Linked DNA regions of Homo sapiens. The protein of the gene in region 3 purifies or fractionates together with the protein of the main gene of each other region. This does not show direct contact. Each region holds a gene or a part of one and is shown on either strand. Other genes may lie near its edges. The genes, in order: CRHBP, ZC3HC1, BPIFB1 and OGFOD3.

The links.
Region 1: the proteins of BPIFB1 (region 3) and CRHBP purify together in Homo sapiens (co-immunoprecipitation; one large-scale study listed by IntAct). This does not show direct contact.
Region 2: the proteins of BPIFB1 (region 3) and ZC3HC1 purify together in Homo sapiens (co-immunoprecipitation; one large-scale study listed by IntAct). This does not show direct contact.
Region 4: the proteins of BPIFB1 (region 3) and OGFOD3 purify together in Homo sapiens (co-immunoprecipitation; one large-scale study listed by IntAct). This does not show direct contact.

What each region holds. Positions count from the first base shown.
Region 1 is NC_000005.10:76,960,350-76,968,266, reverse strand, and holds part of CRHBP (corticotropin-releasing factor-binding protein), read right to left. Parts: intron 4,925-7,917; coding exon 4,807-4,924; intron 1-4,806. UniProt on the Homo sapiens protein: Binds CRF and inactivates it. May prevent inappropriate pituitary-adrenal stimulation in pregnancy.
Region 2 is NC_000007.14:130,021,651-130,029,604, forward strand, and holds part of ZC3HC1 (zinc finger C3HC-type protein 1), read right to left. Parts: intron 7,480-7,954; exon of another isoform or gene 7,461-7,479; intron 7,380-7,460; coding exon 7,252-7,379; intron 4,663-7,251; coding exon 4,508-4,662; intron 2,857-4,507; coding exon 2,613-2,856; intron 2,074-2,612; coding exon 1,861-2,073; intron 876-1,860; coding exon 669-875; intron 1-668. UniProt on the Homo sapiens protein: Required for proper positioning of a substantial amount of TPR at the nuclear basket (NB) through interaction with TPR.
Region 3 is NC_000020.11:33,301,048-33,309,001, reverse strand, and holds part of BPIFB1 (BPI fold-containing family B member 1 precursor), read right to left. Parts: intron 7,770-7,954; coding exon 7,590-7,769; intron 6,644-7,589; coding exon 6,590-6,643; intron 6,087-6,589; coding exon 5,928-6,086; intron 5,045-5,927; coding exon 4,977-5,044; intron 4,157-4,976; coding exon 4,111-4,156; intron 3,001-4,110; coding exon 2,937-3,000; intron 2,092-2,936; coding exon 2,015-2,091; intron 1-2,014. UniProt on the Homo sapiens protein: May play a role in innate immunity in mouth, nose and lungs. Binds bacterial lipopolysaccharide (LPS) and modulates the cellular responses to LPS.
Region 4 is NC_000017.11:82,392,150-82,400,103, forward strand, and holds part of OGFOD3 (2-oxoglutarate and iron-dependent oxygenase domain-containing protein 3), read right to left. Parts: intron 7,325-7,954; exon of another isoform or gene 6,171-7,324; coding exon 6,047-6,170; exon of another isoform or gene 5,439-6,046; intron 5,141-5,438; exon of another isoform or gene 4,732-5,140; intron 2,395-4,731; coding exon of another isoform or gene 2,222-2,394; exon of another isoform or gene 2,182-2,221; intron 386-2,181; coding exon 249-385; 3' UTR 1-248.

The DNA.
Region 1 (7,917 bases), on a different chromosome or scaffold from region 3:
TAGTGGGGGCTAGAGGATGGAATGTACTGCGGGACATTTATGTAGACCAAAAAAAAAAAAAACAAAAAAAAACACCTGTTTATCATTTTCTGAATTTATACAAAAACTGTTTTATACATAAACAAAAAGATCATTTGCATCGTATAGACATACACTGAACATACTAGTTTTTGTTTTATTATCCACTTACAACTTTTCTCTGATTTTTTCTGTACTATTTATATGAAATGGCTTCTGATATCCTTGCTTCTCTTAAATCCAATCTTATTCAGCTGGGCACGGTGGCTCATGCCTGTAATCCCAGCACTTTGGGAGGCCGACGTGGGTGGATCACGAGGTCAGGAGTTTGAGACCAGCCTGGCCAACATAGTGAAACCCCGTCTCTACTAAAAATACAAAAATTAGCCAGGCATGGTGGTGCGCACCTGTAGTCCCAGCTACTCGGGAGGCTGAGGCAGAAGAATTGCTTGAACCTGGGAGGCAGTGGTTGTGGTGGGTCGAGATCACACCACTGCACCCCAGCCTGGGCAACAAAGTGAGACTCCATCTCAAAAAAAAAAAAAATCCAATCTTATTCATTATTTATATAAGATCTGACAACTTTTATATCTCCTCTGTATGGGTTATATATTGAAACTCATATTACTTTTATTAAGAATTACTTTCCTTTTATTTATTCTATTTGTTTATCCAAGCTGATTCCTGAGGCAAGATTTATCTGCTCTACAATAATCATTTCTGCTGTTTTAGTTTTCTCAATCTTTCTTTTCCTCACTTTGTCTCTATAAGGTGTTTTTAAATTTTAAGAAATGCTATCATTGTCCTCGTGTAATGGGTACCACTCAAACACATACCTGGGTTTAAATGAAGTAAACAGTTCAATAGAGTTATTGAGATAAAAGTCAAATGGATGACATAATAAATAAAAGCCCTATAATTATTTTAATATAAGTACCAGGTAGTCTAGTTAAGCTTCTACCAGGAGGTCCAAATTTCTTTTTCTTTTCCTTTCCTTTCTTTTTTTTGTGGCAGGATCTTGCTCTGTCATCCAGGCTGGAGTGCAGTGGTGCCATCTTGGCTCGCTGCAACCTCTGCCTCCCAGGTTCAAGTAATTCTCCTAACTCAGCCTCTCCAGTAGCTGGGATTACAGTTGTGTGCCACCACACCTGGCTAATTTTTGAATTTGAATAGAGATGGGGTTTCACCATGTTAGCCAGGCTCGTCTCAAACTCCTGACCTCAAGTGATGTGCCCGCTTCAGACTCCCAAAGTGTTGGGATTACAGGCATGAACCACCACACCCAGCCAAATTTATTTTTCATTAAACAGTTTGGAGGTCATTCTTTTTCTGATCTTACTCTGGACTTTAATCTTTATAACATGTCCTATTTTCTTTACTTATTATTTATTTATTATTTTGAACTAATTCCTAACAAAATCCAATGTAAAGGGCAGGGTCCTTAATAGTTCAACACTGAACAACTCAGGAGGGGCTCATGGAAATATGATAAAGAAAGAAAAGAATTAAGGCAGGAGAATAGGGTCTGGAGGCAGGGAACTTAAGGTCAATTCATGCTGAATCAAGGAAAAACACCAAGGCCTGGTGGCAGGGAAACTGAGGCCAATTTGTGCTGACTTCCCAAAGCTGGATCAAAAGGAAAACACCTGGGTCTGGGGGCAGGGAACCTAAGCCCAATTAATGCAAACTTCCTAAAGCTGAACCAAAAGGAAAAACCGCATCTCCCCCAAGCCCAAGTAGCGACGGATCAAAGGCTAGTCTCCCTACAACCCTCCCCTTCCACCACATCTCACAAGGAAAGGGAGAGTGCCTTGTACTGGCCGTGGAACAAGCATGGGCTATCTCTTCATCTGCATAGGGTGCCAATTCACCTCAGCCTTTACCCACAAACCAAATCCTTCATCCAGATAAAGGGTAATTGATAGGAACCTCAAAAGGAGCAGTGGCTCACACCTGTAATCCCAGCACTTTGGGAGGCCGAGGTGGGCAGATCACCTGAGGTCAGGAGTTCGAGACCAGCCTGACCAACATGGAGAAACCCCATCTCTACTAAAAATACAAAATTAGCCAGGCGTGGTGGCACATGCCTGTAATCCCAGCTACTCGGGAGGCAGAGGCAGGAGAATCACTTGAACCCAATAGGTGGAGGTTGCGGTGAGCCGAGATCGCACCATTGCACTCCAGCCTGGGCAACAAGAGTGAAACTCCATCTCAAAACAAAAGAAAGGAGTACTTGAAACCCAGAAAACTTTTGTAACCGGGCCCTTGAGCCGCTCGCTAGGGTCCACTCCCACCCTGCGGAGTGCTTTCTCCCTTTAATACATCCCTGCTTCGGCTACTTTGTTCCTGTGTTTCATTCCTTTGTTACTTTGTGCGTTTTGTCCAATTCTTTGTTCAAAACGCCAAGAACCTGGACAACTTACACTCAAGGCCCTCCTTCCAGTAACGGAATAAAGTCTAAAATGAACCAAAGAGTGATATAATTCAAGCCTTAAAATTGTCTTAAAAGTGGTTTCAGTTACCTAGGTAATGTAGGCAAAAGTGGTTTTCTGGCTTTAGAATCACCTTTTTTTCTAATTCAAGTTATATCACTCAAGCGGAAAAATGACTTTGGCTTCAATTATCTAAATTGTAAGGCCTGATTGTTCTTTAATCCTTGTCTTACTTTTTAACCCAGCTGAGGTATATCTCCTCAAAGGTGCTCTCCAATCATGAGCATGGAAGTACTTTAGTGCCTCAGATCATGCACCCAAAAGGCTAAAGAAGCCGCATGCACTGACAGTTTAAACCATGGCTCAAGTGTCAATTAGCATTAGAGAATCCTCTAGTTTTCCGCAAAGTGGGATTTTGGAAATCTTTTGCCTTTACCTTGATTAGAAAGCTTGCTTTGAGCCCACTCCTACCTTAAATCTCATCTGAAACTTTTAGAATATAGGTGTATCTGGGGGAGGGTGGAGTGCATATCAGGCTTTAGTGCTGACTTTTGTATAATTCATCCTTTGGTATCCTCAGGAGATTGGTTCCAAGATGCTCCCCATCCCACGGATACCAAAATCCACAGATGTTCAAGTCCCTTATGTAAATGGCTACCTTTTACCTTTACCTATTTCCATGTAAACTACACACATCCTCCCATATACTTTAAATCATCTGTAGATTACCTATAGTACCTAATACAATGTAAAAGCTATGTAAATAGTTGTTATACTGTATTTTTTTGTGTGTTTTTTTTTTACCTGATTCTTTTCTTTTTTTTTATTTTATGGGGTGTGGTCTTGCCATGTTGCCCAGGCTGGTCTCAAACTGCTGGGCTCAAGCGATCCTCCTGCGTCAGCCTCCCAAAGTTCAGGAATTACACTGAATATATATATATTTTTTGAGACAGAATCTCACTCTGTCTAGTCTCGCTCTGTCATCCAGGCTGGAGTGCAGTGGCACAATCTCAGCTCACTGTAACCACCACTGCCCGGGTTCAAGCAATTCTCCTGCTTCAGCCTCCTAAGTACCTGGGACTACAGGTGTGCACCACGATGCCTGGCTAATTTTTTTATATTTTTAGTAGAGACGGGGGTTTCACCATATTGGCCACGCTGGTCTCGAACTCCTGACCTCAGTAATCTGCCCGCTTCGGCCTCCCAAAGTGCTGTGATTACAGGCGTGAGACACCGCGCCTAGCCTACGCTGAATATTTTCTATTACAATTGGTTGAATCTGTGTATGGGGAACCCACAGTTAAGAAGGGCTGACTGTATGTTAATTCTATTTTGGAGATGTTTTGTCCATCATCAACTCAGAGTCAGAAAATACTGGTGGTCTGGCCTGGTTTTAATTATTACAGGTAACAGCTGATCAAGAGGACTGTCTGCTTTGCAGCTTCATTGCCTAGCTGGTTAATGATCTGCAGTGACAGGAGAGGAAGGAGGCTACAGTAAGAATTAACTGAGATTAGAGACTGCTGTTCTTCTTCTGTTTTGTCTCGTTAATGTTAATCTAGGACTCCTGTGTCTGAAGTAAAGCTATGGGAGTGACCTTTACAGGAATGTTTTATGACTCCTCTCCCCCACCTCCCCGAGACTTCATTGAGTTATCTGGTCATGAGGTCATGAAGTCCCATCCATCCTCACCTGACATGAGCATAAAAAAGTGAAAATACTCACTTGTCTCTGACATAGATCTGGTTCTATTTGGCATATGCTGTGCCAAATAAACCAGTCTTCTATTACTGGTGACCGCTTTTAGATTTCAGAATTTACCTCTGTGTTACACTGGCCTTTGAGAGGCTAGTTTAGCCATAAGAAGTTATAGACTTAGCAGTTCTAAGAATTTCTAATAAAGCTTATCACTTTGTTGTTTATTTACTATGAGTAACACACACACATACATACACATACATAAAAAACAGTTATTTCATTATTATCCTATTACTAATTGATGATACATCTACTATTTGAACCATAAGTGTTTCAGTTAGTAAACTCTTTAGTCTCTAGAAAATGAAAGCAGAGACCCCCAAGAAAATGGAAAGAATGCAGATTTTAAAAGCTTTGTCTTTTTCATAGTTTTACTTAAGGCCAACCTTTATTGCTTCAAAGGTTTCTCTCCCAGTGTCGGATATTTTGGTAAAGATACTGATGTTATATATAGCCTCAAATCCTCATACTGGCTCAGTGTGAAAAATTGAAGGCTTTTTTGGCGAAACTCACCTTCCAATGTAGAAAATATTAGGGGAGTGCTTATTTTTTTTTAATCTTGATAGGCACATACATAACAATCAAAGAAATACCTCACCCGGGCCATGAAAGGGGTAGCAGAGATCAGCTAAAGGCGTCATCTTGGAAGGGTCCAATCCAGTTCCTCCCAGCAGCTCCACAAAGTCTCCTATTCCCTCGCAACCTGCTGAGGATTTCTAAGGGAATAAAGCAGCAGAGAAAGACACATTTAAACCAATTACAGAAGTCAAACCATTTGACCAACAGCGGGTCCATGAATTCACTCAATCAGCCCTCAACATCCTGGCAATACCATTTAATTTAACATCTGGGACTCTGGAAATTAAAAGACATTTAAAAGAGAAAAAATCATAAAAATTGCTTTTCTAAATCAGTTGAGTAATCATTTTTTTTAGAAATGTGTGTACATGTTTTTTTCATTTTTTTTAAGCTCAAGGACTGGAATGATAAAATGGAAATCTGTAAACTCCATATAAGATGTGTGGAAATTCAACCAAAAAATGCTTTACTTTTCAAATCATTTGGACATACATACTGAATCACTCCAATTTCTTAATGCATGCAGTCACAGCTAAGCGAAGTCAAATACCTACATTTTATAAATAGGGCTTTCACATCCGTTTTTCCTTCACCTCATCTCTTTTCTTCTTCTTTGTAAAGGAAATTTGTGTGCTATTGGAACACCTCATTTCTAACAATAAGAATTTTGATTAATTATGAGTATGTTAAAGAAATAATAAAACCCTGATTTGGGGCCCAAGTTAGCTACAGTTACCATGATCTTTCTCCTTTCAACTAAAACAAATTTATTTCAAGCTACTCAAAAGAATTCATTCTAAAGCTTTGTGTGGTCCACCATGATCACCTTTTCCTGCTTCCCCCTTTTTTTTTTTTTTCAATTTTGTAGAGATGGGTCCTTGATATGTTGCCCAGGCCGGTCTTGAACTCCTAACCTCAAGGGATCCTCCTGCCTCGGACTCCCAAAATGCTGGGATTACAGGTGTGAGCCACCTCACCCAGCCTTTTCATTTTTTCCACACTGTCTTGTCCATAGCAATCCCCGTGCCTCACTTTCCAACACAAACAAAGCAACCACTCTTAGTCCCAAAAGTACTCTGAGCCCCCATCTCCCCAGGGCAGTCTCACAAGTATGCCACCTGTGCAGCCACAAAAAGCCAGTGCCTAGAAGGGCTCTATGCTTGGTTTAATGTTCTGCTGCATTTTCATAAAATTGTAATAAGGGCTCCCACATTTTCATTTGTACTGGTCCCCACAATTTTGCCTGTGATCCTCTTTTTCATTGAAGTGTGCTCATTAAGAGATCTAGTAGAATGTGACAAGGTGCTCAGTACTTCACTAGATAGACCTTAACACATAGGAACCAAAATCTAAAATAGAGAACTTAATACACACACACACCCACACACACACATAAGCACACACATTCAGGCATTTAGAAGGGCACTGACCAGCATGGTGGCTCACGCCTGTAATTCCAGCACTTTGGGAGGCCAAGGCAGGTGGATCATTTGAGGTCAGGAGTTCGAGACCAGCCTGGCCAACACGGTGAAACCCCGTCTCCACTAAAAATACAAAAATTAGCCAAGCGCGGTGGCACACACCTGTAGTCCCAGCTACTCGGGAAGCTGAGGTGGGAGAATCACTTGAACCTGGGAGGCAGAGGTTGCAGTGAGCCAAGATCACGTCACTGCACTCCAGCCTGGGCGACAGAGTGAGACTCTGTCTCCGAAAAAACAAAACAAAACAAAACAAACAAAAAAACACAGAAGAGCATTGGAATACAACTGGAACTAAACAGCAAATTGGAAAATAACATAATGGCAACTGCTTCACTAATGAGCAGGGGCAGGTGGGGATACATATTTTTAAAGGGCCTACCTACTATGTACTGGGTTTGATGCTTAGAGGCTTTATACATAATTGCATCAAATGATGAAAGAGGTTTAATTAGCCCCACTGTATACAGGGCTTCATGTTCTTGTATTGAGAGTGGAATAAGCAATTTAGCAGTAAAGGAAAAAAACTTTAATTGCCTTTCCCTTGAGTAGAGGATGTCCAGGAGGAACATCTCTTACAACTAAATTTTCCACTTAGTTTTATAGGTTCCAAAATTCAGCAGGTGCTGTTGCAGGCAAAAAGGCAGACTCAGGAGAGAGAAGTAGGAAATAAAGAAGCTAGGAAGAAATAGAAACTAAAGTGAGGGGAACAAAACAAAGAAACAAGAAAGTTAAGTGCACTTATTCCTTGCTGTTCAATGATTTTTCTCCCTTCTTTGCAAACCTCTCAGCTTTTCTTACAATGGCAGAAACTGAGTTATGCAGGGACCTCTCAAGTTCAGTTTCTCAACAGGGATTCCCTAAATTTCTTTGTTCAGGTTCTAAGCCACTACTATCTTTTGCCTAGCCCACAATAATGTACCAAAAAAGTACTTGGCCAGGAGCAGTGGCTCATGTTTGTAATCCCAGCACTTTGGGAGGCCGAGGCGGGCAGATCACAAGGTCAGGAGTTTGAGACCAGCCTGGCCAATATGGTGAAACCCTGTCTCTACTAAAAATACAAAAAAAAATTAGCCAGGTGTGGTGGCTCATGCTTGTAATCCCAGCTACTCAGGAGACTGAGGCAGGAGAATTGCTTGAACCTCGGAGGCAGAGGTTGCAGTGAGCCGAGACTGCATGTCTGCACTCCAGCCTGGGCGACAGAGCGAGACTCCATCTCAAAAAAAAAACAAAAAACAAAAAACAATAAAAAGTACTTACATTCCTTGTACCAAATGTAAGATCCTCACACCAACTCAATGTGCAAAATTGAAGGTTTTTTGGTTTTGGTTTTATTTTGGTGGAACTCATCTTCCAATACATAGAAATCTGGGAGGTTTAAGAAAATAATCTTGATAGATATGTTAATAATAACTAAAGAAACATCTCACCAGAGCCATAAAAAGGGTGGCATGGCCCTACAGCCCATTCATTGCATGGAAGCCACAGTGACGTTTTAGACAGCATACATCAGATCATGTTGCTTTCCTCCCTGAACTCTTTCAGTGGTTTACCACTGCACTTAAACTCCCTAATGTGGCCTGCAGGGCTCACCACACTCTGGCCCTGCCCATCTCCCTGAAGCTGTTTTATGCCAATCCTCCTCTTCTTTC
Region 2 (7,954 bases), on a different chromosome or scaffold from region 3:
CTCCAAGTGCAAGTGACAGCAAATGAAAGAAAAAGCAGCTGTCTGCAACATGAGGCCGGAGCAGCTGCCTGTTCATCTATTTCTGTTTCCGTACTCCTTTTCTACTTGGAGTCACTTTATTTAGGAGAACAAAAGAATTTATCAGAACTTGACGGAATGCCATATGCTAAACTACAGAAAGACGAACCGGTTCTATGCCTAATCCCTAGGACGAAAGCAGAATGAGTCTAACTTGACGTATAAGCCGGGCACGGTGGCTCACGCCTGTAATCCCAGCACTTTGGGAGGCCGAGGCGGGGGGATCACCTGAGGTCAGGAGTTCGAGACCAGCCTGGCCAACATGGTGAAACCCTGTCTATTAAAAATACAAAATTAGCCGGGTGTGGTGGTGGGCGCCTGTAATCCTAGCTACTTGGGAAGCTAAGGCAGGAGAATCGCTTGACCCAGGAGGCGGAGGTTGCAGTGAGCTGAGATCGTGCCATTGGACTCCAGCCTAGGCAACAAGAACGAGACTCCATCTCAAAAAACAAACAAACAAACAAAAAAACCCAAATAACTTGACGTATGAAAGCTGAAGGCAGGCGGGGTGCTAATTATAGGCCCAGCCTCTGCTCCACCTCCCATAAACAGCAAGTGCTGCCCACACACAAGGCAGTGGCGTATCTCACCATGGAGTCCGTTTCAGCTGGCTGGCTAGACTGTTTGTGCGCCAAGAGGATGGTCAGCACTGCTTTCCAGCCTGGCTCTGCTGGGGCGCTGGCATCTGGTTCAGTTCCACCATTCTCCCTGCTTTCTTTGCCAAGTGTGATATTCACCCAAGGGCACCAGTCTCTATGCTGAGAGGTGGGATCAAAGAAGCTTCGGGAAGATGTGTCCTGAGGAAGGAGAAAAAGAAATAGCATTCATAGGTAGATGCTATGTAAGTTCAGGGAGGCACTGCTGTTAGTTATCAAGTCCAGAATCTCACAACTACCCATACTTCGAGTGTTTATGCTCTCCTTCAAACTTTGCCTACACATTTTCCTCTCATTTTCTTTATTTTTTCACTCCTTTTGTGTTAAACAAACTATACCTTATCACAAGGGATAAGGGATACCCAACCCCCAGGCCATGGATGGGTACCAGGTCGCACAGTAGGAGGTGAACAGCAGGCGGGCAAGCAAAGCTTCATCTGAATTTACAGCTGCTCCCCATTGTTTGCATTACCACCTGAGCTCTGCCTCCTGTCAGATCAGCAGTGGCATTAGATTCTTATAGGAGCAGGAACCCTACTGTGAACTGCACATGAGAGGGATCTAGACTTCGGGCTCCTTATGAGAGTCTGACACCTCATGATCTGTCACTGTTTCCCGTCACCCCCAGATGAGATCATCTAGTTGCAGGAAAACAAGCTGCAGGTTCCCACTGACTCTATATTATGGTGAGTTGTACAATTATTTCATTATATATTACAATATAATAATAATAGAAATAAAGTACACAATACATGTAATGTGCTCGTATCATCCCGAAACCATCCTCCCAACCGTGGTCCGTGGAAAAATGGTCTTCCATGAAAACGGTCCCTGGTGCCAAAAAGGTTGGGGACCGCTGCCAGATCAGGTTTGTCCCTGTATCACACCGTTGTTCCATTTGCCTGAAATATCTATTATTTCTCCAGAATCCACTCCAAAGGAACAAAAAGGAGCAAAAAACATGACTGACATTTTTTCCCTTTGGTCATCCAACTTTAAATTTATTCACATGGTCTACTTTTTGCATTGGACCACGGAAGGGCTCCTGCCTGCTTCTCCATGCTGCCTAGGGAGGGCCCAATATGCTGTTTATGCTCAGCCACTGCTACATGCGAGGTGGACTCACCGAACTGCTGGAGGAGCAGAGGCGAGCTCGCTTGGCTTTCCGCAGAGGGCTAGATGGTACCTCCAGGCCAGGGGTGTCTCCTGTTCCCATGCTTCGGGTCACTGGGCGAGTTCTGGTGGTGGGGCTAGCAGCCTCTGGCTCAGGACGGTCAACAGGACTGGAAGAGTCCCAGCTCCGAGTTCGAGAGACAATGGGACCAGGGCTCTTTTCAGCCTGAAGGAAAGGGGAGATAATGGAAGTACACGAATGATATTAATGATTATGGTCAGAAATACTTCTTTCTTTAATCTTTTTTCTTTTTTTTTTTGAGACAGAGTCTCGCTTTGTTGCCAAGGCTGGAGAGCAGTGAGGCGATCTTGGCTCATGGCAACCTCTGCCTCCCGAGTTCAAGTGATTCTCCTGCTTCAGCCTCCCAAGTAGCTGGGATTACAGGTGCCTGCCACCACACCTGGCTAATTTTTGCATTTTTGGTAGAGACGGGGTTTCACCATGTTGGCCAGGCTGGTCTCAAACTCCTAACCTCAAGTGATCTGCCTGCCTCAGTCTCCCAAAGTGCTGGGATCATAGGCGTGAGCCACCGGGTCTGGCTGAATTTAGCTTCCCCATTAGTGAACAGAAACACTATGTGGTATCGTAACCAATGTAGTGGGAAGAGAAGCCTATCCACCTAAATTAATTTCCAACTTTCTACCAACAACACTTTTGCCAAGAATGTTGTTTAAAATTCCACCCCAAATAAGCTAAGTGAATACCTGCTCTGAGCCTGGGGAGAAAGTGGCATCCTGGCTCCGGGTCATCATCCTCCGAGGAGATTCAGGCACCAGAGGTAAGCGCTCTGGTCGCCCCTCAAGGCCTGGGATTGGGGAGCTGGTCAGGCCAAAGGATGCATCCAGGTCAGTCATGGACGATTCAATCTGCTGGAAGCCCCAGAGCCCCACCTTCCTCATACATTGCGAACATGTTATCAGGGAGAGCTGCATGGATTCCAAAGAGGAACTAGATAGGAATGAAAAAGAGAGTTTTCTCAAAGTGTAACATTTCCAAATGACTAAGTGCAATGTCTTGTGAGTATGCCTTATCTCATCCAATTTCTGGAACAGTCACCATGTCCTATCAGAGCCTCTGTGCTCCAGTCTCAGGACCCAGCTTCATACTTCATCATCTCTCACATATTTCCCATAGAAAGACCTCGGGTTCTTAGTGTGCTCTCTATGGTAAGACTGTTTTGCAGGCATGTTTTAAAAGTTTCTCGGCCGGGTGCAGTGGCTCATGCCTGTAATCCCAGCACTTTGGGAGGCCAAGGTGGGTGGATCACCTGAGGTCAGGAGTTCGAGACCAGCCTGACCAACAACAACAACAACACAAAAAGTTTCTCCTGTCCCTCTTTTTTTTTTTTTTTTTTTTTTTTTTTTGAGTCAGAGTTTTGCTCTTGTTGCCCGGGCTGGAGTGCAATGGTGCGATCTCAGCTCACTGCAACCTCCGCCTCCCAGGTTCAAGTGATTCCCCTGCCTCAGCCTCCTGAGTAGCTGGGATTACAGGCACCCGCCACCATGCCCGGCTAATTTTTGTACTTTTGGTAGAGATGGGGTTTCACCATGTTGGCCAGGCTGGTCTCGAATTCCTGACCTCAGGTGATCCACCCGCCTTGGCCTCCCAAAGTGCTGGGATTAAATAAGTGTGAGCCACCGTACCCACCCTCTCTTGTCCCTCTTAAAGTCTTTTCCCTTTAAACAAAAAACATTCCTTAATCTACCAAAGAGAGCATATTTAAAATACATCAAGATTTATTTACTGTCAGAACCAATCTTGATGTATTTTAAATATGCTCTCTTTGGTAGATTAAGGATAGTGGGAGTCTATGCCAAATTGAGCAGCTGGAATGGAAATAGCAACATGGGGGCCTAGAAGACTCCAGCTGGTGTTTCCTATGGTAGTTTTTATCAATTAAGCGGATTTTTCTTCCTTTCTAAAAATAGAAAAGAACTTCCTTTCTATTTTTCCTTCTTAAAAATAGAAAAGAGCTTATTTTCTTTCCATTTTTAGAAAGGAGGTTCACTGTTTATAGAACACAAATTCAGCCTGGTGTGGTGGCTCACGCCTGTAATCCCAGCACTTTGGGAGGCCGAGGCAGGCAGAACACGAGGTCAGGAGATCAAGACCATCCTGACTAACACGGTGAAACCCCGTCTCTACCAAAAATACAAAAAATTAGCTGGGCGTGTGGCAGGCACCTATAGTCCCAGCTACTCGGGAGGCTGAGACAGGAGAATGGCGTGAACCCGGGAGGCGGAGCTTGCAGTGAGCTGAGATCGCGCACGCCACTACCCTCCAGCCTGGGCAACAGAATGAGACTCCGTCTCAAAAAAAAAAAAAAAAAAAAAAAAGAGAACACAAATTCCCAGTTAAGAAGCAACAGTACAAGAAACAAAGTTCAGTTGTGAACACCAAGAATTCCTGAATTCCAATTCTGGTTTTGTTACTAATTCTTATTATCCATTCTCCTCGCACCATCCCCCACCCAGTTTTTCTTTGTCTCTTTTTCTCACGGGAAACACCATGTGATTTCTAAATACGATTAGTGACTGATATATATGGGTGTAATGCTGTTGTCATGGTTCATGTCTCCAGGCAAAATCTGCTGACTCACCTACACGCCCAGCCACACACAGAGAGAATACAGGCAGTGACGTGGACTTGGATGTCTGAGCCTAATTTGATTGTAGTTTTTCTCTCATCAGTTCGGTGATCAAGTTCATCTTCAAGCAAGTGTAGGAGAAGACTGATCTTGTCTTCTGTCAAGCACTACAAGGGAGCCAAGTAAAAAACTTCGTTTCAACCACCATAAAAAGAAAAATTACACATTATAACATACCTAGATGGTACAAGCCGAAAATCAGGAAGGAAATTACAAACATGAAGATACTTCTCTTCACAGAGAACAAAATACTTCCAGGGACAGGGCTATAGTATCACACAGAAGCTTTCTGAATTGCCCTGAATCTGCTGACTGAGAAAGATGGAGTCTCCCTGGAACTGCCAAAACTCTTGTTAGTACTAAATTGTTCAATTTACCAGCTGCAGATTTTCCCTGAAACCTGCAAACTTCAAACCCAAATAGTGAAGACAAATTACTGCTTATGTCTTAGCCTGACACTAAATTTACTTAAACATTAAAGAGGCCAGGCGTGGTGGCTCACGCCTGTAATCCCAGCACTTTGGGAGGCCGAGGCAGGTGGATCACAAGGTCAGGAGATCGAGACCATCCTGGCTAACATGGTGAAACCCCGTCTCTACTAAAAATACAAAAAAATTGGCCGGGCGTGGTGGCGGGCACCTGTAGTCCCAGCTACCCTGGAGGCTGAGGCAGGAGAATAGCGTGAACCTGGGAGGCGGAGCTTGCAGTGAGCTGAGATTGCACCACTGCACTCCAGCCTGGGCGAATGAGCAAGACTCCGTATCAAAAAAAAAAAAAAAAAAAAATTAAAGAAAAAAAAATTTTAGAGATGGGGTCTCACTATGTTGGCCATGCTGGTCTTGAACTCCTGAGCTCAAGCAATCCTCCCACCTCAGCCTCCTGAGTAGCTGGGACTACAGGCATACATCACTGTGCCCCAGGCTCTAAATTTACTTTTTGACAGAACAACAAAGCTCGTTAGACTTTATTTTTGTTCTAAGAAAAATAAGGAACTATGACCAGGTGGAAAAAAAAAATTGCCTTGGCTAGGGACAGGGTTATATTCATAAGCATCAGAGGTTAATAGTTTCAGTCTATGGCCATACCACCCTGAACGCGTCCAGTCTCATCTCATCTCGGAAGCTAAGCAGGGTCAGGCCTGGTTAGTACTTGGAGGGGACTTTGGGAGGTTAACAGTTTGATGCTAAAACCCATACCACTCTCTTAATTTGAAGAGGCTACTATTTCCTACAGTAAAGCTTGTCTTCATGGAGTACCCATAGGGTGATTAAATGGAACAGTAAATATTCAGTTTCAAAGTACAGATTGACTAGAGCATTTATTTTATTTTTGAGATGGAGTTTCGCTCTTGTTGCCCAGGCTGGAGTGCAATGGTGCGATCTCGGCTCACTGCAACCTGTCTCCCAGGTTCAAGCAATTCTCCTGCCTCAGCCTCCCAGGTAGCTGGGACTACAGGCATAAACTACCATGTCCGGCTAATTTTTTGTATTTTTAATAGAGACGGGGTTTCACCATGTTGGCCAGGCTGGTCTCGAACTCCTGACCTCAGGTGATCTACCCACCTCAGCCTCCCAAAGTGCCGGGATTACAGGCATGAGCCACTGTGCCCGGGCTGACTACAGCATTTAAACATTTCTACTCACAAGGAGAAAGGAGTTTGTTACTTTCTTTGAAAAATGATGGCCGGGTGTGGTGGCTCACATCTGTAATCCCAGCACTTTGGGAGGCCGAGGTGGGCGGATCACGAGGTCAGGAGATCTAGAACATCCTGCCCAACACAGTGAAACCCTGTCTCTACTAAAATTACAAAAATTAGCTAGGCGTGGTCGCACGTGCCTGTAATCCCAGCTACTTGGGAGGCTGAGACAGAAGAATCGCTTGAACCCAGGAGGCGGAGGTTGCAGTGAGCCAAGATCACCACTGTACTACAGCCTGGCGACAGAACAAGACTCTGTCTCAAAAAAAAAAAAAAAAAAAAAAAAAAAAAAAAAAAAAGATATGCAATAAACCATATGCAGTCACATTTCAGTATTTTCTGTTAAATAGTTTAAGTAGGCTGGGTGTGCCGGCTCATGCCTGTAATCCCAGCACTTTGGGAGGCCGAGGCAGGTGGATCACCTGAGGTCAGGAGTTTGAGAACGGCCTGACCAATATGGTGAAACCCCGTCTCTACTAAAAATACAAAAATTAGCCAGGTGTGGTGGCAGACGCCTGTAATCCTAGCTACTCAGGAGGCTGAGGCAGGAGAATTGCGTGGACCTGGGAGGTGGAGGTTGCAGTGAGCCGAGATTACACTATTGCACTCCAGCCTGGGTGACAGAAAGAGACTCGGTCTCAAAATAATAATAATAATAATTTAAGTAATAAATCAAGATAAAACTGAATTTATGGGAAGCATATATTCAGGGCAAACTTGAATCTATGCTTCCAGGTTACAGCCCTAAAACTTGGCCCAAATAAACTGCTTATATACATATATGTTAAATTGAATCTATGCCATTTAAAAAAACATACCTAAACATTCAAATGGAACTCTCAACTGTCACCTTCCTGGTGGAGACTGAAAAGGTCAGATGAGAGACAGACAAGCAGTTCTCTTCACAGCAATTGCATCTTCTTGTCATTAAAAGAAATGCTTCAGGTATAAATGCTGGCAACAACTGGAGGCCATTGCAGCCTAGTCAGGAAAAACTCACCATAGTTTTCAAGTCCTCCGGCCTTAGGGAAGGAAGCTGGAGGTCCAAGTGACAAAGGCTTTGAAAACGATCTAGGAATTCACTAACAAGAATAGCAGGCTCATCCAGGGGCAACATCCCAAATCGGTCTGTGGAAAAAGTAAATTGGAAGATTATATTGGTGTAAACTGTAAAAAATAAAAAACACGGCTGGGCATGGTGGCTCATACCTGTAATCCCAGCACTTTGGAAGGCCGAGGCGGGCGGATCACCTGAGGTCAGGAGTTCAAGACCAACCTAGCCAACCTAGAAACCCCTGTCTCAGCCTCCTTTAATACAAAAAATTAGCCAGGCATGGTGGCGCGTGCCTGTAATCCCAGCTACTCGGGAGGCTAAGACAGGAGAATCACTTGAACCCAGGAGGCAGAGGTTGCAATGAGGCTGAGATCGTGCCACTGTGCTCCAGCCTGGGCAACAGAGAGAGACTCTGTCTCAAAAAATAATAATAAAATAAAATAAATAAAAAACACATATTGAATGATTGAGGAAATATAGTAAAATTGATGAGCTATTTGATGGTGTCAGGAAATTATTGTTTTTCATTTTGATGGGGCTGTAATGATACTACTGAGACCATGTTTAAAAAGTAGAATCCATATTTTTTATATTTTGAAATATTTAGATAAAATGGCATATGTGGGACTGAACTTCAAAACAATGCAGA
Region 3 (7,954 bases):
ATCTGGCCACATGGTGTGTGTGTGTGTGTGTATGTGTATGTGCATGTGTAGTGTGTGTATGTGTGTATATGTGTATGTGTGCGTCTCTGTGTATGTGTGTGTATGTATGTGTGTATGTGTGTGGTGTGTGTGTAGTGTGTATGTGTGTGGTGTGTGTATTATGTGTGTGTGTATGTGTGTGTGTAGTGTGTATGTGTGTGGTGTGTGTATTATGTGTGTGTGTGTAGTGTGTATGTGTGTGGTGTGTATGTGTGCAATATGTATGTGTGTGTGTATGTATATGTATAGGTGTATAAAGGTGTGTGTGTGTATGTATGTGTATAAAGGTGTATGTGTTTGTATGTGCGTGTGTATGTATGTGTATAGGTGTATAAAGGTGTGTGTGTGTATGTATGTGTATAAAGGTGTATGTGTTTGTATGTGCGTGTGTATGTATGTGTATAGGTGTATAAAGGTGTGTGTGTGTATGTATGTGTATAAAGGTGTATGTGTTTGTATGTGCGTGTGTATGTATGTGTATAGGTGTATAAAGGTGTGCGTGTGTGTGTGTATATGTGTGTGTGCATGCATGCATCTCAGGCCTATGAGGTTACCTGCCTTGGATGTTGCCTCAGATCCTGGGCCTCCTTCCTCATCTTTCCTGGAACACCAACAATCCCTGCCTCAGGGCCTTTGCACTTGACATCTGATATGGTTTAGATCTGTGTCCCCGCCCAAATCTCATGTAGAACCCAATGTTGGAGGTGGGGTCTAAGCTGATTGGATCATGGGGCTGGTTTCTTGTGAATGGTTTAGCGCCATCCTCTTGGTGCTGTTCTCGTGATGGTGAGTGTGCTCTTGTGAGATCTGGTTGTTTAAAAGTGTGTAGCACCTCCCACCCCTTGCTCCTGCTTGGGCCATGTGATGTGCAGTCTTCCCCTTTGCCTTCCGCTATGATTGGAAGTTTCCTGAAGCCTCCCCAGAAGCTGAGCAGATGCCAGCATCGTGTTTCCTGTACAGCCTGCAGAACCACAAGCCAATTAAACCTCTTTTCTTCATGAATTACCCAGTCTCAGGTATTTATTTTCTTTCCTTTTTTTTTTGGGGGGGGGATGGATTTCACTCTTGTTGCCCAGGCTGGAGTGCAATGGCGTGATCTCAGGTCACTGCAACCTCCGCCTCCTGGGTTCAAGCAATTCTTCTGCCTCAGCCTTCCGAGTAGCTGGGATTACAGGTACCCGCCATCACGCCCAGCTAATTTTTGTATTTTTAGTAGAGACTGGGTTTTGCCATGTCGGCCAGGCTGGTCTCGAACTCTTGACCTCAGGTGATCTGCCCACCTTGGCCTCCCAAAGTGCTGGGATTATAGGCACAAGCCACTGAGCCCAGCCTCAGGTATTTCTTTATAGCAGTGTGAGAACGGCCTAATACGCTGTCCCTCTGACGGGACACTTCTCCCAGCTACCCACAGGGCTCACCCCTCACCTCCTCAGGCATTGGCTCAAATGTTACCTCCTCAGAGAGGCCCTCCCTGGCCACCCCATCTGAAACAGCACCCCCTTCCCTGACATCACTCTCTCCTCCTGAGCCTGCTTTATTTTTCTTCTCAGCCTTCCTCCACTCAGCCTGATGTTACATCTTTAGGGCTTGTGTATCTGCCTCTTCTGCTAAAAGGTAGGCTTGAAAAAGATGGGAGTGTTTTCCATTTGTTCATTTCGGTGGCCTCAAGCACTCAGAAGCATGGCTTGCCTATAGAAGACCCTCGAAAAATATTTAGTGAATTACTGAATGAATGAATGAATGAATGAATGACAAGGGGGTGGAAAAAGTGTACTGACCCCAGGCTAGGAGGGTTCCATCCTCAGCACAGCCAACCTTCTCACTTGCAGATGAGGAGGTGAGGCCCTGAGAGGGGAAGGGACTTGCCCAGGGTCACCTGTAGGCTGGGGTTGGAGTGCAGGCCCCACCTCCCAGCCAGGGCTCTCAGTGGCTGTGCCCTCCCTGGGGCAGGATGTTTAGGGCCACACCCACTCACCTTGGTCAGTGAGGACTCAGCTGCCTCGAATCCCAAGGCCTTCACCAATGACACTGGGACCCCAGATCTTAATTTGCCTGAAATAACAAATGTGGTCAGAAACTGATGGGCCTGGGGTGAGACTGGGCAGCCAGGGGCAGGCTCAGGGTTCCTGAAGGGGAGCCCCGGCCTGGCAGGCCTGATCAGACAGCCCCCTCTGCCTCTGCTCGCCTGTTCTCTGGCCCCAGCATTGACCCAGCCTCGTCTACCCTCCCTTTGCCTCTGGCACTGGCTTCTGGCCCCTCACAAAATGCAGTCCTCACATTCTCTTACGCTCTTGCTCAAGAACCATCAGGGGCTCCCATTATCCCCAGCAGAGGTTTCTATACTTTGAGATTTTTCCAGTCTAATAAAATAAAGAAATTAAAAAGGTGGAACTGTATAGGTTACAAACCCTTCCCACCCCTCATTCAACCTGGGGCTGAATTAGAGTGTTGGGCACTGACTGTGCCAGGCACCTCCTGATTTGTGCCTCTGAAGAAGGTACTTCTACGTCCCCATTTTACAGATGGAGAAACTGAGGCTCAGAAGGATTGTGCAGCTTGACCAAGGCCAGGCACTAGCAAGAGGGGGAACAGGGTCTGCTGAGGCGCCTCCAGTTGTCTCTTACACCTCTGTCATTGCTCTCATTGTCTGCTTATGCCTCTGTCTCCTTCCAGCCCTGCAAGTCTGGCCCACTGCTTGGTTCATCTTTACGAGCCCAGCCTCTGGCACTAGCAAAGGAATTGGGCTGAGAAGGTTCTTGGGAGGAGGCAGATTTTGAAGTAGGCTCTGAGGGATGGCTGGGAGATGAATGAAAGGGGCCCCATTCATGGAGATGAGGGCAGGGGAAGTAAAGCCAAGCCCTGGGGAGAGAGGGGGCACAGATGGCAGAGGTATGCACCATTCTGGTTCGGCAGCAGGATGGAGTGGATGATCTCAGTGATGATGTTTTTCAGAACATCAGGCTGTGAGAGAGAGAAGGGGCACTGTCACCCTGGTTGAGCATCTGAAGTTCCCCCCCATCATTCTTCGTGGGTGTGGCTCCTCCCCATGGGTGAGGTGGCTGGTGGAGATGTAGGAATTCCAGGTCCCCTGCTGATCAGAGCTGTGGGGGCTCCCAGGGACCAGATGGGCTGGGTTGGGGCATGAACTCAGCCGCCCCTGGGGCCTGGTAGATGGGGGGATTGGGGTGCATTGGAGGATGCCCCATCCTCAGGGGCCCCACCACTCTGTTGCAGCTGAATTTGCCCTGAGGGAATTTTGCCCTGCATTGCCTGAACTTCTGACTTCTGGAGGGAAGCCAGAAGTCCTGATTTGCATGTGGAACTCTCCGTGTTTTAAAATATTAGTCACCGGGCATGGTGGCTCATGCCTGTAATCCCAGCACTTTGGGAGGCCAAGGCGGGCAGATCATGAGGTCAGGAGATCGAGACCATCTTGGCTAACATGGTGAAACCCTGTCTCTACTAAAAGTACAAAAAATTAGCCGGGCGTGGTGGTGGGCGCCTGTAGTCCCAGCTACTCAGGAGGCTGAGGCAGGAGAATTGCTTGAACCCGGGAGATGGAGGTTGCAGTGAGCCAAGATCACACCACTGCTCTCCAGCCTGGGCGACAGAGCGAGACTCCATCTCAAAAAAAAAAAAAAAAAAAGTCAAAAATAGTGAAAAACAAATCATAAAAACCAGAGAAAACACGCCAGACTGAGGTATTGGGGTTCGGTCTGAATCCCAGCAGGAAAGGGCTGTCTAGGGGCACTGAGGCGCGTCTACGTGTGCAGAATGAGATTGTGAGTCAAGGGCACTTGTGTTCTAATTCAGGATCAAAACTTCACTGAAAGAAAGTGTGTATCTGTGAGTGTATTTGTGTGTGCGTGTGTGTGTTCTCAGCTGTGTCTGACACGTGGTGGCTTCTCTGTAAACACTCGAGGGAAGTTGGACTTTGGTGGAGACCGGCCAGCCCCCCATGGTGCTTCTGTGGGGACCTTGTTTGAAGCAAATCCTGGGCAATATCTGTTTTGAGAGTGGACCATTCCAGGCCACCCCCTGTGCCCTCAGGCACCACCTGTTAACACTTACTTGGAACCAGCCAATCCCAGAGTTCATCAGCTGGATCCGATCAGAGCTGCAATGGAAGATGCCTGTGAGAGCGGCCCCTGAAGTCCCACTCATTCACCATCCACTCATTCAACAGCGATTTATTGAGCACCTATTATGTGCCAGGCACAGTGCGGGCTCCAGTGAACCACATGAAGCCCTTGCGTCGTGGAGCTTGCATTCTAATGGCAGGGGTGGGGTGGGGGGCATAGAGGGGGCACAGAAAACAAATAGCAGTCCAGTGAGCAGAAAAATCAACCTCAGGAGTCAGGGCTGTGGTGGACAAGGAGGCCCAAGCTCCTTCAAAGGGCGCCCCAATTCCTGGCTCGACAGTTTGTTGCTATGTAGGATTGTGGGCACAGGGCAGCCAGATAGTCTGATTTGATATGTGCACAACTCATTTATATTAAACAGCCCAGCCCTATGTGGGCTGATCAAAAGAGCCCTGGGCCTGACTTGTCCCCAGAGGCTCCAGCTGGCAGCCCCTGCACTCACTCTGGGGCCACAGGAAAGTGGCGGGGAGGGAGAACAGGCAGGGTGCAGGAGGCAGCTGGAGCCCTGCACTTCTGTGCCGGGTGACTGTCACTGCCACGGCCTGGGAGGTGTCCAGAGTGGGCTGGCCGCGGCTAGGGTTTGCCTGTGCCGTGGCTGCTGCAAGGCCTACTTCATTTTCCTCCCCATTCCCTCACATGCAGTCCTTGTCAGCAGGAGCATCCGGAAGGACCTCCCTGCCTACCCTGGAGCCGCCTTCACCTGACAGCCACAAAGTCGGTGTTTAAAGAAACCCATGGTTACCAGGCGGGACTCATTTCCATCAGCAGAATCTTCATGATGATTTGTGTGTTTACCTGATGTTATTCAAGTTGAGTATAAGTTGGTCACCTTTGGTGTAAAACTGAGCTTCCGAGCTGGCTTCCTGCAACAAGAGAAGCCCAGGCCCCATTGTTCTCAAGAGGATCCGAGTGTGGAATTAGGGGTTATGCAGGGAGGCTCTGGGGTCTGAATCTCAGTTCCTGGCTCTGGGACCTTGGCAAAGGGTTTGACCTCTCTGGGCCTCACCTGCCTCATCTGTTAAATGAGATAGTACTTGCCTCCACTCCCCATTTAACAGATGACAGTCTAGGCTTGCTGTGGGGAATGATAATGATGACGATGACGACGACGAAAGCAGCCACTATTCATAGAGCCCTCACTCCCTTACCCTAGTGTGTAGGTGGCCCAGCTCAGGAAGTTTTCATATTCCATTTTTCTGGACACACTGATTGGCTCAAGAATGGGCAACTGACTCAGGCTCATTCAGTGAGAGTCAGCCCTGAGATGTTTGCTGGAACTATTGGAAAGATAGGTTCTTCCTGCGGTGATTGCCAAGCTGATAGGATATGAGCCTAATGCAGCCTGGGGCACTACCATGAGGGAATAGCTTGCCTGAGGATGAAGGCAGCACAGAGGAAAACAAGGCTGCTAGGTGGGAGAGAGGAGAATGAAGAGGATATTGTTTGAGCACCTGGGTCCAGCTATTCCCGAAGTCAATAGCATCTAGACTTTTTAGTTATAGGAGCTAATACAATTCCTTTTGTGCATATGAGTTGAGTTTCTGTCCAGAGATTCCTGACTAAGAAAGTCACAGGGTTAGAATTGGACCCACAAAGCTCCTGGCTCTTGGTTCAGAGCTCCCTGTCCCCTGTCCCTGCTAAGTGATGAGAGTGGTGGAAATGTTTAACAAAGCAAGAGGGCGAACAGGAAAAGTAGACAGAAGGGTCCCCCTGGTTGCTGCCAATATCGCAGACAACTGAACTCACGATGCCCAGGGTGAACAAAGGGCGGAGGGCTTCACTGGAGGGAAACACTTCCAGCACGATCAGTTGGGCCACCTTGGCATGGCCTTGGTCTATAAAAAACTCGGGAGTGTCCTGAGTTAGGATCTTCACGATCTGGGTAGATCCCAGCTTATCTGCAGCCTGGAAGGAGATCAGACCCACATGTGGCCTCCCAAGTGCCCACCATGGCCCACAGGCTCTGTGTGTGGCCTGGCCCCTGCCTGCCTTCCTGGGCTCCCTGCTCCCTCACGTGTTCCAGCCACCCTGTCCTTCTTGCAGATCCTTGAATGTTGTGTTGTTCTCCCTACCTGGCAGCCTTTGGTCTCCTGTTCCCTCTGTCTGGAATGCCCTTCCCTTCAGGGAGGCCTCCCTGACGTCCCAGACTGTATCAGGGGCCCAGAGTGTTCTCATGGCCCCTAGAACCTGTCCTGTGTTACTGCAGCTGTAATGGAAATACTATCCATGTGATGATTTGCTTCAGGTCAAACTGGCCTGCTAGACTGAAATCTCTGTGCGGACAGGGATGCGGTTTGAGTGTCCCAGTGCTGGAATGAAACACTAGTCCCACTAGATTCTCCTCCCCAGAGGCCTGTGTCCAGACCACAGCAAACACCCCTCAAGCTGCAGATGGCAAACAGACCAACCTTTTCATTGATCAGCCCGATGCTTGACTTCAGCCGATGGGCACTCTCAGGAAGCTGAGGGTGAGAGGAGCCAGAGAAGGTCAGTTGGAGGGCACAGGGAGGCACATCTCCTGCACCCCACTGCTGGGAGGAAGGTTTCCCAGGACCCCAGAAAAGCTGGGTGGGCCCAGTGACCCAAGCCATGTGTCTGTCATTGGTGGAAAAACAGCCCCTAGGTCAGCTTCTATGGGGCATGGGGTCCTGCTGGCCTGGACTTTTACTGTGGGCTGGTGATGGTTGTGGGTCTGGGGGCAGCTTCCTGATCTCAGAGGACATAGAGAGGTGATTTCATTTTTACTGCAATCATGAATGGGCTAGTTGGTGACCACTCCCTATTTTCTCGCCATCCCAGTCCCCTGAGAGCTTGGTTATTGGTTGTCTGTCAGCTGCCCTGAAGTTCTGCCATCCTCCCATAACGTTGGACCAACCCTTTCCCCCTCTGGACCTCAATTTCCCCGTCAGTCACCCGGGAGGAGGTGGCACAACATAGTTGACTGGTGGTGGTTATCGGCTGTGCCCTGTTAATAAGGATTCCAAGGTTGTGTCAGCATCCAGACTCAGTAGAAAGGAGAGCCTTGATCGATTAGTGATGTCTGCCATGAGTGTCATAGTGGTGAGCAGTGGCACAGTCGCCATCCCTGGACTACTCACTATCTGAGATGTATTTATCACCCCTGGACTACTGCATATCTAAGATGCCTTTTGATTTCACGAGACTGTTATTTGGTAGAGGAAACATTTGCATCAGATTCCAGAGGGTAGAACCATGACTGGGGCTGGATGTTACCGGGAGGATTTTAGGTTTAGAGCTATGTCAGAGGCAGGGTCTATTAGAGGAGGGAGTGAGATCTCCATTAAACTGAGCCTGATGGAGGATTCCTGCTTAGGGGCACCCTGTGTTCAGGAAATTCCTATGATGTGGCCTGGGCGGCCCTATTCTCTGCCTTGTGCTGAGGTTTACCACAGAGTCCAACAGGACCATGAATTCTTCTGGAGAGAGCACAGCAGCCACTGCAGCTTTCACCACGTCCTGACTCACGATGAGGCTGAACGGGATGTTGTCCAGGGTGGGCATTGTCAGGGAAGCTGCAGAGTTATTGAACCACTTGGTCACCTTTCCCTGTGAGTCCAACAACTTGGCCTGAGGAGACAGAGCAGGGAGTCAGCTAAGAATTTTAACTCTGCAGCTTACCCAATAGCAACCTAGAAGGAAATGACACCATTCAGCCTGTTTCCTTTTTGTGCATTTGTTGCCAGGAAGCTTAGCCTGGAGCTCAGGTGTGTGGCAACATCTACTCCATCTTTGCCCCTCGGATAATCTCTGAC
Region 4 (7,954 bases), on a different chromosome or scaffold from region 3:
GGTCCCTTTCCTGGCCTCCACCTCAGGCTCCCAGGCCTACAGCCCAAGCACACATGATGCTGGAGAAGTGAAAAGCTGGTTCCCTTCATTTACTCACAGATGAAAAGATTAACACGTCAGCAAATCAAAATCAGAGAATTCCTAAGGCACTCTGTGCAACAGGAGCGGGTGGACGTGGGGGTGGGTGCACGACTGGCGCGGCTGCCTCCACACGGGCCCTCCTGAAGTTACCTTGGCCCGGCTGCTGGCTACGGGAACGCTGGGTCCTCGATGCCATGGTCGGGGTTGCAGCTGAAGGCGATGGTGATGGCGTAACGGGTGCCCCAGTGGACCTTCTCCACGCGGTGTAGGTTCTCGGACCCCGAGGTGAAGAAGGAGACGCGACCTGGGAGAGGAGAAGAGAGAGAGGTGGCCATAGAGCCACACCCACGGCCACAGCCTTCAGAGGGTCTGCGGTCACCTGAAAGAGCAACTATAACCAATCAACACAACCAACCAGGCAGGCTGGAGAAATTGCCCCTCTGGGAACTGCTTCTGCAGGAAGGAGGAGCTGGAGAAACAAACGCAGCAATGCTCAGGGGCCCTGTGGCGGAGGAGGGGCCCCCCGGGGCCAGCAGGGACTCTGTGGTGGGCAGGACAGAGGAAGATGCTGCAGATGAGGCCACCACTGGCTCCAGACACCCCAGGTCATCTGATCTCCCGAGCTCCGGGCATTTGATCTCCTCAGCTCTCATGGGCCTTCCAGATCTGACACTTTAGGATCTTATTTCTAATCACAGGTTGAGAACAAAAACCAAGCCCTGGGGGTGTTCTAACAAAGAATCAGGAAAGACAAGATAAAACATCCAACTCGCAAACACCTCTCTGTCTCCCTTCAAGGGGTGATAGAGATGACGTCTGAACAGGCAGCTTCCACGGCAGTAACCAGGGCCCGGGGCCTGAGAGGTCCTGGAGGCAGGGGCCTATCTCAAGAGACGCCAGTTCATTTGTCTTCACATTGAAGTGGCGCTGCCTACCCCACCGTAGAGTCCTGTGGTAAAGCGTTCACCGCTGGACACAGCCATCGACCGTCACCAAGTGGGAAGCAAGGGGCGTTGAGACTCAGAGGACACCGGGCTCCCCCACGTGGCTCCTGACGTCCTGTGACAATTTCATTCCCCTTCAAAGGTTACCACTGGAAATGCAATTCCTTCCTTTCACATTTGCAAACTTCACTCGATCTTTGAAAGGGGAGAGAAGTCCATCCCGGGTGTGCAGGGCATTCTAGCTTCAAGAGGGAGTCAGTTGCACTGTGCCTGGAAATAGTGGAGCAAAAGAAATCACGTGGATGCAATGGTCACCTCTTAATGGAGGCCGGGAAGCGCCCTGGGATGCAGGCAAGGCAGCCGATCTTTCCCGGACCGTGTGGGCCACCTCCAGATATGCAGGACACGTCCTTTTCCAGGTCGGCTGGAGTCAGGGCACCTTCTAACCTTACACTTTTAAAGGACACATTGTCCTTGGTTTCTTCCAGCTTCAATCGAGGCTGAGACATCGGCACAAGCAGGAGGGCCCAGCGGCTCGCGCCATTTGGGACCTCAGTCGCCCATGCTCGTCCACACTCTCTGCTCTCTACTGCTGGCAGACGTGGTTCTCAGGAGGCTGCCAGCATTCAGTAAAAGGAGGGTCTCCTCTGGCCCTCTGGTGTTTCTGCACATCTTGCAAACAGAGGCACCAAAGGACAGGGGGAAGGATGGAGGACAGCTGAGCCTCGTGAGCTGTGGGAGGCAGGAAACCACCCACCATCCACACTACTGAAGGCTCAGACGGAGATGAGATCAATACGGGGCCAGAAAAGGACTTTTTTTTTTTTTTTTTTTTTAGACAGTCTCGCTCTGTTGCCCAGGCTGGACTGCAGCGGCATGATCTTGGCTCACTGCAAGCTCTGCCTCCTGGGTTCACGCCGTTCTCCTGCCTCAGCCTCCCTAGTAGCTGGGACTACAGGCGCCCGCCACCACGCCCAGCTAATTTTTTTGTACTTTTAGTAGAGATGTAGTTTCACCGTGTTAGCCAGGATGGTCTCGATCTCCTGACCTCATGACCCGCCCGTCTTGGCCTCCCAAAGTGCTGGGATTACAGGCGTGAGCCACCACGCCCGGCCTAAGATGCACTTTCTTTAGTAAATGACTATTAGATTATCACCTGCTTCCTTAAAGCAGGACTCAGCACGGCAACCAAGGAATCAACAATAAGCAATGCTCTCAGCTTCCAGAATCGCATGTGTCTCTCCCCTCTCGGGCGGGTGGTGAGTCCCCGGAGGACACCTGACTCCAGCCTTCGCACCAGCAGCTTCACTGGCTCTCGGTCCATTAACTTCTTGGAACCCACAAGACATCATCCGGAAACAAAAACATCCTGGGGACACAGGACAGGGATTGTGTGGTAAAGGGTTGACTCCAGGGGCCTGGGCGGTGCACACCCTACACCCTCCAGAGAGAGGCCTGGCCTTTGCCCCGGCTCCCAGGGGGGACCTCTGAGCCCTCAGAACATCCTGCCTGATAGGAGAACCTCTGTTTACCAGGGACCTAGGGCCACACCAGATGGTCCACACTGACAGTGTCACTTATGGTGGGACGTGGGCCACAGAGCAGCAGCTCAGCATCCAGAGGGGCTGGGGACAGAGGCCAGCCGTGCCTGCACCACCAGCCCCCCAGTAAAAACCCTGGACACCAAGGCTCGGCCGAGCATCCCTGGTCAGTGACACCCCCGAATATCATCACACATCACTGCTGGAGAACTAAGAGCTGTTGACCCAACTCCGGGAGAAGACAGTGGGAAGCTCACACCTGGTCACTCCTCAACCTGCCCCACGGCCTCTCCCCTTGCTGGATTGTTTTTTGTTTTTGTTTTTGTTTAGACAGGGTTTGGTTCTGTTTCTCAGGCTGGAATGCAGTATGCAATGGTAGGATCTTGGCTCACTGCAACCTCCTCCTCCCAGGCTCAAGCAATCCTCCCATCTCAGCCTCCTGAGTAGCTGGGACTATAGGTGCACGCCACCACACCCGGCTGCTTTTTGTATTTTTTGTAGAGACGGGGTTTTGCCATTTTGGCCAGGCTGGTCTTGAACTCCCGAGCTCAAACGATCTGCCTGCCTCGGCCTTGCAAGTGCTGGGATTACAGGTGTGAGCCGCCCCACCTGGCCCCCTTGGTGGATTTTAATCCATTTCTTTTCACTGTAATAAACTACAGCCAAGGGTATAATGGCTTTGCTGAGTTCTGTGAGTCCCAACAGTGAGTCACTGGACCTAAAGGTGGTCTTGGGAACCCCCGAACACAGGACTCTGCCTTCCTCGATAAAGTTGCCCTACAAAGAAAACTAGCATTTGCCACTCATGGTAAGAACTGCGACACGGCCGGGCGTGGTGGCTCACGCCTGTCATCCCAGCACTTTGGGAGGCCGAGGCGGGTGGATCACGAGGTCAGGAGATTGAGACCATTCTGGCTAACACGGTGAAACCCCGTCTCTACTAAAAATACAAACAATTAGCCGGGCGTGGTGGTAGGCACCTGTAGTCCCAGCTACTCGGGAGGCTGAGGCAGGAGAATGGCGTGAATCCGGGAGGCGGAGCTTGCAGTGAGCCGAGATCGCACCACTGCACTCCAGCCTGGGCGACAGAGCGAGACTCCGTCTCAAAAGAAAAAAAAAAGTCTCCAAATCACAGGTAAACACATAGATACACACAATTAGACAGATGTACAACATCAAATCACAGGTAAACACATAGATACAATTAGATGTATGACATCAATCACGTAAACACACAGATACACACAATTAGACAGATGTATGACATCAAATCACAGGTAAACACATAGATACACACAATTAGATGTATGACATCAAATCACAGGTAAACACATAGATAACACACAGATGTACAACATCACAGGTAAACACAGATACACACAATTAGATGTATGACATCAAATCACAGGGAAACACATAGATACAATTAGACAGATGTACGACATCAAATCGCAGGTAAACACATAGATACACACAATTAGACAGATGTACGACATCAAATCGCAGGTAAACACATAGATACACACAATTAGACAGATGTATGACATCAAATCGCAGGTAAACACATAGATACACACAATTAGACAGATGTACGACATCAAATCACAGGTAAACACATAGATACACACAATTAGATGTACGACATCAAATCACAGGTAAACACACAGATACACACAATCAGACAGATGTACGACATCAAATCACAGGGAAACACACAGATACACACAATTAGATGTATGACATCAAATCACAGGTAAACACATAGATACAATTAGACATGTATGACATCAAATCACAGGTAAACACATAGATACAATTAGACAGACACATGCAGGAGACAGGTTGTTTTAATTATCTGAAAGAAGATCGTAATACAAAATGTTTGACTCAAGTATTTATCATGCTTAAAATGACTAAGATCAAAATATGCTAAAAAGTTGTGTAATTTCGAGTCCCAGGAGGCTTCAGCTGCTTGACTTCTCAAGAAAACGCCTGTCTTGTGCTCTGTGAGTTTTTCATTTTCCCACAAAACTGCTGTGACTGGGACTTCTGGGGTGAGGGCAGACAGGCTGGGCTCCTGCTTGCAGAGGCTGGACGTCCAAACCCTTCCCCTAATGCAGAGATGACTCAGAACAACTGACATGAAGGCAGAGTGAGGCCAGGACACAGTCAGGCCAAACGCCCCCAATCCACGCCAGGGGAGACTGTGCCCAGGGCTGCGGCACACACGGCCTGAAGCCGGCTGCAGGGAGTGGGCTTGGCCAGCCGCTGGCTACAGCGGGAACTGTCCAGCCTGTGGCCAGGGAGCAGCTGAGGGAGGCAGGATGGCAGGAAGTGGCCGGGCAGCTCAGGCCACCTGCCACAGGTGGTCGTGGAAAGAGAGTCCCTCAAACTGAGCTTGCAAACTGAAGTCGTAAACTAACCTGAGAAAGGCAAGTACAAATAACAGGAATCTCAAAATAAACAAGCTGGAGATCTTAAAAGAGATGAAAGAAGTCCTGACTGTCACACAGTCCCTGGTCTGACTGAGCGGCCAGGCAGGAGGAACACCCGTGCTGAGAGGCCACCCCACAGGTGAGGGCAGTGCCCTGGGGACGGGTGAGGCAGCAGGGGGTGAGGGCAGTGTCCTGGGGACGGGTAAGGTAGTGGGGGGTGAGGGCAGTGCCCTGGGGACGGGTGAGGCAGCGGGGGGGGGGGGGTGAGGGCAGTGCCCTGGGGATGGGTGAGGCAGTGGGGGGTGGATGGTGCTGGCACAGTCCACAGGGCTCCCAAGCCTATGCGAGTTTCGGCTGCATCTGGGGTCAGGGCCGTGGGCTCCACCTGAGGAGGCCCCTAACAGGGGTTCCCCACTCCCCACACCCTCCCACCCCAGGATCTGGGCTTGTGTTACCCACAAGTTCAAGGAGCAGAGGATGACTGTCCGCTCGGCAAATGCTCACTGGCACTGCTGTGTCTGCAGCAGGCTGGGCATGGCTGGGGCTCTGGGACTCTGGGACTGCAAGGTCCAGTGTGATGGGTTCTGAAGCCGGCACCGCAGAGCCACCCGGTGAGGTTCCAGCCACCAGCGAGGAGGGCACTAGGTCACCGACACTGGGCTGGGGCCTCGTCTAATCTTAGGTTGCGAGTCTCTTTGAGAAGGGTACAGAGGTGAACGCACTCCAGAGGGGAGGGAGGGAGACCCTGACCGCCAAGGTGACACACACCAGGGAGGGAAATGGATGGTGCCTGTCAAGGTGACACACACCAGGGCGTGGAGGGGGGCTCTGCCGCTGACTGACGGTGACCTCAGACATGTGGCCCCGTAGACACCAGCCTCCTGGGTGTTGGGACTGGCGCTAGACCTGGGAATCACTCAGCACCGGCCCGGCACACAGCAGATGCTCCGTGAACTCAGCCTCGCTCCCAGGGACACGCCCCCCACACCCACCGTGCTTGCCTGAGCCAGGAGCCCCACGCCCAGGCCCCGCCCGCGCCTCCTACCAGCTCTCGGCTCCACCGTCTTGTTGGCACCCTCCTCCATGAACATGAACCGCCCTCCGCCGAAGTCCTCCAGGTAGTTGGAGAGGTACAGCAGCGAGGTGTAGTCGAAGGAGCCGTAGGTCACCTGAGGGCAGAGCCGGGAGGAGGGGGCAGAATGGGCTCTCAGCATGCGACCAGGGCAGGTGCTGCTTCTCTCTCTTATTTTTTGTTTATTTATTTTTTGAGACAGAGTCTTGCTCCATCACCCAGGCTGGAGTGCAGTGATGCGATCTCGGCTCACTGCAATCTCCGCCTCCCAGGTTCAAGCAATTCTCCTGCCTCAGCCTCCCGAGTAGCTGGGGCTACAGGCACCCACCACCACACCCAGCTAATTTTGTATTTTTAGTAGAGACAGGGTTTCACCTTGTTGGTCAGGTTGGTCTCAAACTCTTGATCTCAGGTGATCCACCCACCTTGGCCTCCCAAAGTGCTGGGATTACGGGCATGAGCCACTGAACCCAGCCTCTTTTTTTTTTTAATAGGGTATCGCTTTTTTTACAGACAGCATCACTCAGGCTGTAGTGCAGTCACAGCACTGTCATTGCTTACCATAACCTTGAACTCCTGGCTTTAAACAATCCTCCTGCCTCAGCATCCCGGGTAGCCAGGACCACAGGCGCACGACACTACAACCAGCTAATTTTTTCTTTTCTATTTTTTTTTTTGTAGAGATGGCATCAGTCCACCCACTTTGGCCTCCCGGGTGCTGGGATTAGAGGCATGAGCCACTGTGCCTGGCTGATTTTTGTATTTTTTGTAGAGGTTGGGGCGGGGTGGTGGGGGCAGGGGGGCGGGTCTCGCTATGATGCCCAGGCTGGTCTCAAACTCCTGGCCCCAAGTGATCCTCCCACCTCAGCCTCCCGGGTGCTGGGATTACGCGCGTGAGTCACCAACATCTGTGCTTCTTATTTTCCAGAAGGTAAATTAACAACATGTGTCGGCCCCATTAATGAGGCCATTTGTTCCTTTGCAACTTTAAAAACCCTCTGCAGAGTCTCCAGCCTCATGCATTGTTGCCCAGGATTTCCTGTAAGCTCAGATGTTGGAGCAGCCGTGTTCCAGCAAAGGCTACGGGCAGCAGGCCAGCCAGCAGGGTGTGCATGCTGGGATGGTCCCCCGGTGCCAGCCTCGCTGCCCACACGTGGGAACCAGAGGCAGCGGTGGACGCGCTTTTCTCCTTTCTTCAGAAGTGGAGCAATCCCAAGCTTTTTAAAACTTGTAATAAAATGCAGAACCTAAGATTTTCCAGCTTAACTGTGTCTTCACTGTTTTTAAGCACAGTTCAGTGATGTTAAGCACATTTCCAATGTTGTGCAGCCACCGCACCGTCCTCTCCAGAACATCTCATCCTCCCAGGCCGAAGCTCCGTCCCCAGGAAGCACTGACTCCCCACGCCCCCCAGTCCTGCCCTCTCCATTCCGCTTTCTGTCTCTGTGAACCTGGCGACTCTAGGGTCCCCACGGACGTGGGATCAGGCAGGATCTGTCCCTCCGTGACTGGCTTACTTCACTCAGGGGTCGCAGCACTCAGCTTCCATTCCAGAACCCAGCTGGGGCCACGCCCTGGGGGTGAAAGGTGCAGCTGCCAGGACACCAGCTGCAAAGGGGAGGGCGCATCTCACCCAGCTCAGCTGTCATAAGCACACCCAGACCAGGGAGGGAAAGAGACACTCTGGGGAGGGAAGGGGGATGGAGCCGCACCAGCGCGGAACTGGACACCCACTGTGCGGGCGCTGAGCTAGGTACATCACACACAACAGAGCCTCGTGTGCAGTGGAGAGAGCCCAGGCTTGAAGGCAGACACCGGGCCCTCCCCCTGGGCAAGGTGGCCTCCTCTGAGTCCTCCTGGGAAGGAGAGCAGGATCACGCT